Homo sapiens: one gene and its partner. The protein of the gene in region 1 purifies or fractionates together with the protein of each later gene. This does not show direct contact. Each region holds a gene or a part of one and is shown on either strand. Other genes may lie near its edges.

Evidence for each region.
Region 2: the proteins of NDUFA5 (region 1) and MCCC2 fractionate together in Homo sapiens (co-fractionation; one large-scale study listed by BioGRID). This does not show direct contact.

The regions. Positions count from the first base shown.
Region 1 is NC_000007.14:123,540,586-123,544,410, forward strand, and holds part of NDUFA5 (NADH dehydrogenase [ubiquinone] 1 alpha subcomplex subunit 5), read right to left. Parts: intron 1,636-3,825; coding exon 1,534-1,635; 3' UTR 1-1,533. UniProt on the Homo sapiens protein: Accessory subunit of the mitochondrial membrane respiratory chain NADH dehydrogenase (Complex I), that is believed not to be involved in catalysis. Complex I functions in the transfer of electrons from NADH to the respiratory chain.
Region 2 is NC_000005.10:71,646,248-71,650,072, forward strand, and holds part of MCCC2 (methylcrotonoyl-CoA carboxylase beta chain, mitochondrial isoform 1 precursor), read left to right. Parts: coding exon 1-30; intron 31-2,849; coding exon 2,850-3,006; intron 3,007-3,821; coding exon 3,822-3,825. UniProt on the Homo sapiens protein: Carboxyltransferase subunit of the 3-methylcrotonyl-CoA carboxylase, an enzyme that catalyzes the conversion of 3-methylcrotonyl-CoA to 3-methylglutaconyl-CoA, a critical step for leucine and isovaleric acid catabolism.

The DNA of each region.
Region 1 (3,825 bases):
AATCATATTCTATTTCTTTTGCAGCATTAGAAATAGGCCATTCTGAGAAACAGGCCAAACTTGCCTCAATGTAGTCATTGAGTTAACAACACTAGAACCATGAGAATGAGAAACCCTGGGCTTCTAACTCCCCCTCTAACACTTCCCCACCAGAAGGAGCCTTCTTGCACTCTAACCTCTAAGAATCCACCTTATTTAATATTTATTTAGTATTCATGTTACAGCTCTATGAGGGGAGAAATATACTGGAAAGAAGGAAAAATACCATTTTTTTCTCATTCTGAGCAAATGTGCGCATGCGCGTGCACACACACACACACACACACACACACACACACACACACACACACGTATACACAAAACCCCACAAGAGTATAGTACTATCTATGAAGGAAAGAGATACCACGTTAAATTTAACCAAGTATTTAGGAATGACAGGGAGCTAGGAAGGCGAAAACACATGTAATTTTATTTTTGTTTAACCTTAAGCTTGCCAACTTCTTTCCCTGAACAGCATTTGTCTTGTTTTGATACCCACCTACACTTATATTAGAAACGTACTGCAAACTATTTAGTGACTCCACTTTTAATTTATGGTCGTATGACTAAGATGTTTTGAATATAAGCCTATCCGTATGCCAGATATAAATTTCAGGAACTCTTAATGTCTCTTCTTTTACAGAAACTCTACCTCTATCCTGATGTAATTAGGTTGATTAAGAAAATTAAAGGCCACGGGCCAGAAAACTAACTTCCACAAATGCAACAAAAGGAAAATTTCTCCAATAACCTGTATGCAATGGGAAATCTTTCTTTTAAGTACCAAGTCAATTTCTTTAACTGTACAATGTATTCTAATTTGAAGGTTTTCAAATATAATACAGTAACAACAAAATATAATAAAATTAAGACTATAAGAAAACAGAGTAAATGGTATAATTCAATAATGACTAAAATAAAATGACACTATGGATTTTGTAATCAACCTATAATTATCTATTTAAATTTCACTTTACATACATAAGATCACAGCTGAGGTTAACCATAATTTCAAATTTTATCACCAGCCACTTGTGCTATTTTATCACATTTGAAAATATTCACTCGTATTATTTACTTCAAACAGTAATCTATAAATTTGTTTAGACTATAATAATTAAGGACCTTTCCTTCTTCAGGATAACTTAAAAAATTAAATGATGTATTGAACATACTACTAAAGAAAGTTTACTTTTTGATTATGGTCTCTGCATTGAAAATCTGTAGGAATTTTTCTTTAATAATTTTCAAATCTTCCCATGGCCTCTCTGTTCACAGAAATATCATCTTTGAAACAACTTGTGTGAGTACTTTATAAATCAAAAATTGATTCACATGACCATATTACCATAATCACCAATTTTAACAGTCTCCTACATATTTTCTATATCACTTTTCTTGATTACAAAATGTCAGTAATAAGAACACGCTCTTAATATAACAGAATATTTAATTACATCAGTTTCCCATGAACACACCAAAGTCACTTAATAATTATATTGGCCATTTCCACTGATCGGCAGGAGGCTCTTCCACTAATGGCTCCCATAGTTTCCATTCCCTCATTTTTCTTGCCAGATTTAGTTCATGTTCAGCCTGTTAATACAAATTTTTTAAAAGATCATTGGATTTTACTCTTCAACAGATATTTATCAGAACAACTGAAATTTAACTATTAGTTACTACTTTCATTTAATATCTCATAATCTATTCCACCATCAAATGTTGAATATTAAGTAATTAAATTACCTTAATTCTCACATCTACATAATCAGGAGTAAGAAAGGATATCTTTTGTTATCTTCTATTTGATTGAAATAGGCTATAGTGTTTAAAAGTTTAGCTGGTGAGGTTTTTTATCTTAATAATATTTCACAAGTTTTTTGAGCATCAGAAGTATGTCTTTTCATCTATGTCAGTGGCTTTCAAACTTTATTTTACCATGGCCCACAGTAAGAAAATATGTTTTATTTTGAGTTCCACAATACAAACATATAACTAAAACTTTTTAAATTATTATCTTTACTGGCAGTGATATATTCTTTTTTCTATTGTGTTTTTTTAAGCTAATCACTATCCAACTAACTGATTCCATGACCCACAGTCACTTGAGACCCAGAGTTTATAAAACAGTGATCTATGGAATGTAGAACACAATACATGTATAATTAATATTTACTAACTGAGTAAATTCCTTAATCAAATTATGTTTCATTTAATTTTTCCTTTCAAACACAACTTATATTTAACACACACATTTTAGGTAGCTTTTTATTTCATATTTTTTCTACAACAAACAATATTTATGACAACTCTAGCCAACTTATAAGATGAATACTATTAAACACCTGTCAGGATGTTAGAAAAGAAATTCAAACACAGAATAAGCGCTCAGATTATATTCAAGGTAATTATTATTACACAGTTAAAAGATAATACCCCATCTATGACAGCGGTCCCAAAAGTCAATCTATGTTTACAAGCAACTATAAAAAACAATGAGTTAAAGAGCAGATGAATGGAAATCAGGGGTAGAGGTATTACTAATGCCAAAAGGAGAAAATAATTTAAATACTGATAAAATATTTCCTAAGGTTGCCCTGGGTCTCACGAACATCCAATGCTTTCTCAATCTCCCCCAGCCATTATAGGGCATGAGGAGGTCACCTAGGCCTCATTCATCCTTGAGAATCAGCCCTATCTCAGGAACCTGGACCCAGCTGCACCTGGCCCCTGATGCCTATTTCCTCCTTTCTGACACACCATCATACCATCCATCTAGAAATGGGACTGTCTAATATGTTAGCCACTACCCATACATGGCTACTGGGGACTTGAAATGCAGCTAGTCCAAATTCAGATGTGCTGCAAAGTGTAAAATACATACCAGATTTTGATGACTTCATATAAAAAAGAATGTAAAATATCTCAATATTTTTATGATTATATTTAAATAATATACTACATATACTGAGTTAAAAAAATACTAAAATTAATTTACCCTTAATACTGACCATGAAAACATGGGGAACTGCACAGCTGACTTAAAAATACTTAATATGCCTTAAAACTTAATTCCATGAAAAATTGATGTATCAACTAAATAAAGTCATGATCAAAGTGAAATCAGGTGGTACAGAAAAGAGAAATAGGTATAGGGCAACAGTATAAGGTTTGCGGCAAGTTCCCATAACACTGTATCTAGTACCACAGCCAACCTGACGAATATAAAGGCCAGGTAAACAGGCCTTTGAATAACTGAAACAGTCTACATTCATAGAAAGCTGTCTGAATGCTATATTCCTCTTTTTCCAGAGCCATCTAACAATTCTTTTGATTTGGTATATCATGTCTGTTGGTGATATACCTCCCTAATCTCCAATATTATCCAATATTTCCTTTTATCTGTCCTTCAATCAACAGTAAGAAAACATTAGAAAGGGTTACATTTGAAAAAAGATGCAACAAAATAAAATTAAATGAAACAATTGAATATTTATCAGACACTTATAAGATGAAGACATTCTAAACCTATAATATGAGGGTTGTAGGGGTGTGGAACAACAAAATTTCACCAAATAAAAAAAATTTGAGCTGGGCAGGGTGGCTCACGCCTGTAATCCCAGCACTTTGGGAGGCCGAGGCAGGCAGATCACCTGAGGTCAGGAGTTCGAGACCAGCCTGACCAAAATGGAGAAACCCTGTCTCTACTAAAAATACAAAATTAGCTGGATGTGGTGGCACATGCCTGTAATCCTAGCTACTTAGGAGGCTGAGGCAGGAGAA
Region 2 (3,825 bases), on another chromosome or scaffold:
TTCCTCTGCTGTTCCTTCAAAACATTACTGGTAAGAAAATAGCTTAATCAGTTTGGTTGTATTGATTCCAGAGCTGTACCATCAGTGTGGCTCATGTATTGGACAGCACACATGTAGACCACTTCATCAGAGCAGGAAGTTCTACTGGACATGCTCTTTCTGGAGGCCCTTTAAGAGTTAGCACTTTTCTTCATGCATGTTAAATATTCTGAGGAGATTATCCATATTTTCTTTCCCCCAAGTAGCTGGGCCTACAGGCATGTGCCACCATGCCTGGTTAATTTTTGTATTTTTGTAAGACGTAGTTTCACCCAGACCATGTTGCCCAGACTGGCCTCAAACTCCTGAGCTCAAGCAATCTGCCCGCCTTGTTCTCCCAAAGTGCTGATACTACAGACATGAGCCACGAGCCACCACACCTTGCTGATTATCCATATTTTCTAAGTGAAGCTATTTCTGAGTTATGTACCTGATCAGCATTCACATGGCCACCCTTTACTCCTGTGTGTGCACAGCCACACACCCAGAAAGCAGCAGGAGCATGATCTGATCACTGCAGAGAGCATCATGCTTTTCCTAGGACCCTTTTCCTCCTCAAGATTTCAGGCACGTGCTACGGTCTTCCCTTTTATTGTACAGTTAATTCAACTTAAGTAACATCATTTTAAAATGTATGTGTATACCCTGAACCAAAGTCTGGGGATTTGAGTTTTGGCCCCAAAGAATGGTATGACCAAAGTGAGATATGTCACCTCTCTGGACTTTACTCCAGAGATGACCTTAACATGGTGGATAAATTGATTTTTAAGGTCTGTTACGGTTGAAGAGTGAATTCTCTGATTCTCTGGTATCCTTCATTATATGTTGCAGAGTGTCTGAGATATACAGGGCACTCAGATATGTTGGTTAGCAGAAAACAGCCTCCCCCATCCCAGGCTACCTCAGCTTCAAAGGAAGGAGAGGCTCTTAGTACTTGTTGGGATCATGCAAGCCTCTTTGAGAAGGAAGAGTCAGGCTCTTGGCAGTCAACAGGGCTTGAAATAGTACTGGTGCTAAAGCATCTTCATCCTGTGAGCTACTTAGGTTCATGATATTTGGTTAGATGAATGTTGAGAGAAGTTATATCCAAATGGCAGCCTAAGAGGGTCCTGCATGGTAACTTATGTAAAAGGGCAGATAGAAAGGATTCTGAAGCCTAACTATACCAGAGTTCTTGTTTTTAATAATGATTCCTGGATTGTTAACCACCAGGCAGTTAAAACTCTGTGGTTTGAAGATATCTACATTTTTGTTTTGTTTTGTTTTGGCCCTGTTGGGTTGAGTTTAGTTTTTCAGCATTGCATTTGAGGTTCCTGTGGGATATTCACCTGGAGGCATATAGTGGGCAGGTGAATAAGTCTCAGCACAGGAGAGGTGTTTTAGGTAGAGATGCAAATGTAGACATCATCAGAATATGGAGGTAATTTTAAAGCTGTGGGAATAGATAAGAACCCCCCTGAGAGAAGAGAAGAAGGTTCAGTGACAGTCTTCGAGTACCTCTGATTTTTTCCTTTTTCTTCAAGAGTAAAGGAAGATGGGGAGCATGATTATGCAGTTTTCTTAAGATTGGAAGAAGAAGGATTTGAGAAAGCGAAGTGAGATGCCTCACTCTTCTTTTTGAAGGCAGGATCCCCTCCAGAGAATAGAGGGATGGTGGGTCGGGTTGGGTGGGGTGAGAACTTGAAGACAGCTGATATTTGAAGTAGGTATGGTGGGAATGTTACAATGGAGTCAAGGCTGGGGAGATTGAGGAGTTTCTGAGCTTTTCTGAGGGTCCAGCTGAGTAGGATAGCTGCAGGAAGCAGATGGTGCCAAGTAAAGGGCTGTGCTGCCATTCCTGTGGTGACTGCAGAAGGCACACGTGCTCTGGAGGAACTGGTTGGGTTGAATTGGATGACCAGATACTGGAGTTTGGCAAACCAGGGATAGTGGCAGTCAATGAGGCAGGTGAGTCTGCAGGCCCACAGATGGAAGAAATGCCTTTGCTGGAGACTTGCGGGGTAAGGAGACAAGCGAAGCCCAACTCAGTGTTATAAGGCAGAGAAAGAGGAACCCAAGTTCTGGAAGGCAGTGAAGTTGCAGAGCAGCCTCCACAGAGCTAGGGGCTTGAAGAAATAGAAGGATCCTCTATTGAAATGGAAAAATAGTTTTTTTTTAACCTTGCTATTGAGTCACTGGCAGGGACTGTTAGCATCTCTATGAAACATTCATCTTTATGTCTTCAAAGTTTCAAAGCATCACTTTAGAAAGAACAGTCTGTTTTAAAACCAGGTCAGTGAAAGCTAAAGCCCTCATAGTTAGGCTCATCACAGCACTTTGTCCTTAACTAGCCATGTCACATTCTTTTCAGCATCAAGCTGCTTCTTTGACATCATCTCCTTTTTAAAATTTTTATTTATTTATTTTTAAATAGAGGTAGGGTCTCGCTTTGTTGCCCAGGCTGGTCTCAAACACCTGGCCTCAACTGATCCTCCCGCTTAGGCTTCCCAAATTGTTGGTATTATGGGGGTGAGTCACTGCACCCAGCCAAGATCATCTCTTGAAGATAGATTGCATCCTCATATTGTTTGAAGGTTTCTGTGTGCATCCAGATGAACTGCTTTAAGAAAATTTAGAAAGTGATTAGAGAAAATTTTATTTTATCCTTTTAAAGCAAACTTTTTAACGGTATGTTTCACATATAAACATTTTCTTAAGGCGAGAGGCATTTAGTAAGATGAGTTTAGTAAAACAAGATGTCCTTTTGGTGGAATTGCGTTCCGCATATTAATCCCATCACCCAGAGGCTCTCTTTCTGATCTTTCTCTCAGGATTTATGGTTGGTAGAGAGTATGAAGCTGAAGGAATTGCCAAGGATGGTGCCAAGATGGTGGCCGCTGTGGCCTGTGCCCAAGTGCCTAAGATAACCCTCATCATTGGGGGCTCCTATGGAGCCGGAAACTATGGGATGTGTGGCAGAGCATATAGGTAGGTGTCATGATTTTCTCTGAAACAAAGAAACATGCTTCAAGTATAAAATACATGGTCAGTTTATTTCAGGTGTATTTGAAATATAGAATGCCATTCCCAGATCTCAATCAATTATACCGTAATTTGTATCATTTGGAGGGGTGAAATGAAATTTAATGCCAAAGGTGTTATTTGGAAGAAATCTACAATGGGAGTCAAGAAATACTTGAAATGGCTGATAATGAAAATGCCACACATTAAGATTTGTGCAGTGCAGCTAAAGTCTGGCTCTGAGAAAGGTATGTAGCCTTAAAGGCATATACGGGAAAAGAAGCAAGACTGCAAGTCAGTGAGCTAAGCCTTCATCTGTGGGAAGTTCAAAGAACAGCACGTTAAACCCGTGACAAATAGAAAGGACATAATGAAGAGCAGACATCAGATAGAAGAATCAGTATAGCCCAAAGTTGTTTGGTTTGAAAGTTCAACAAACTTGATAATCTTATGCTTAAACTAAAAAATAAAGAGAGACAGCACATATAACCACTATCAGGAATGGAAAAAAGGACATGACTGTAGATCATGAGAGGATATTATGAACGCTTTTATACCCAGAATTACATGGAGAACTTAGAAGTCCCATCTGTGCTCAGGACCCTCCTCTGGAGTCTAGTCTGGGGTGTGTTCCAGGCATTTGTATATTTGTGAAAGCTCTACAGATGATTGTAATGTGCAGCCAGAATCAGGAACCACTAATTTAAAAGGCAAACATGGGCCTCTGAAAATCTATGTTGTATATTGACTTAATTTGTTTATTCTTCCTTTTCTTCCCCCAGCCCA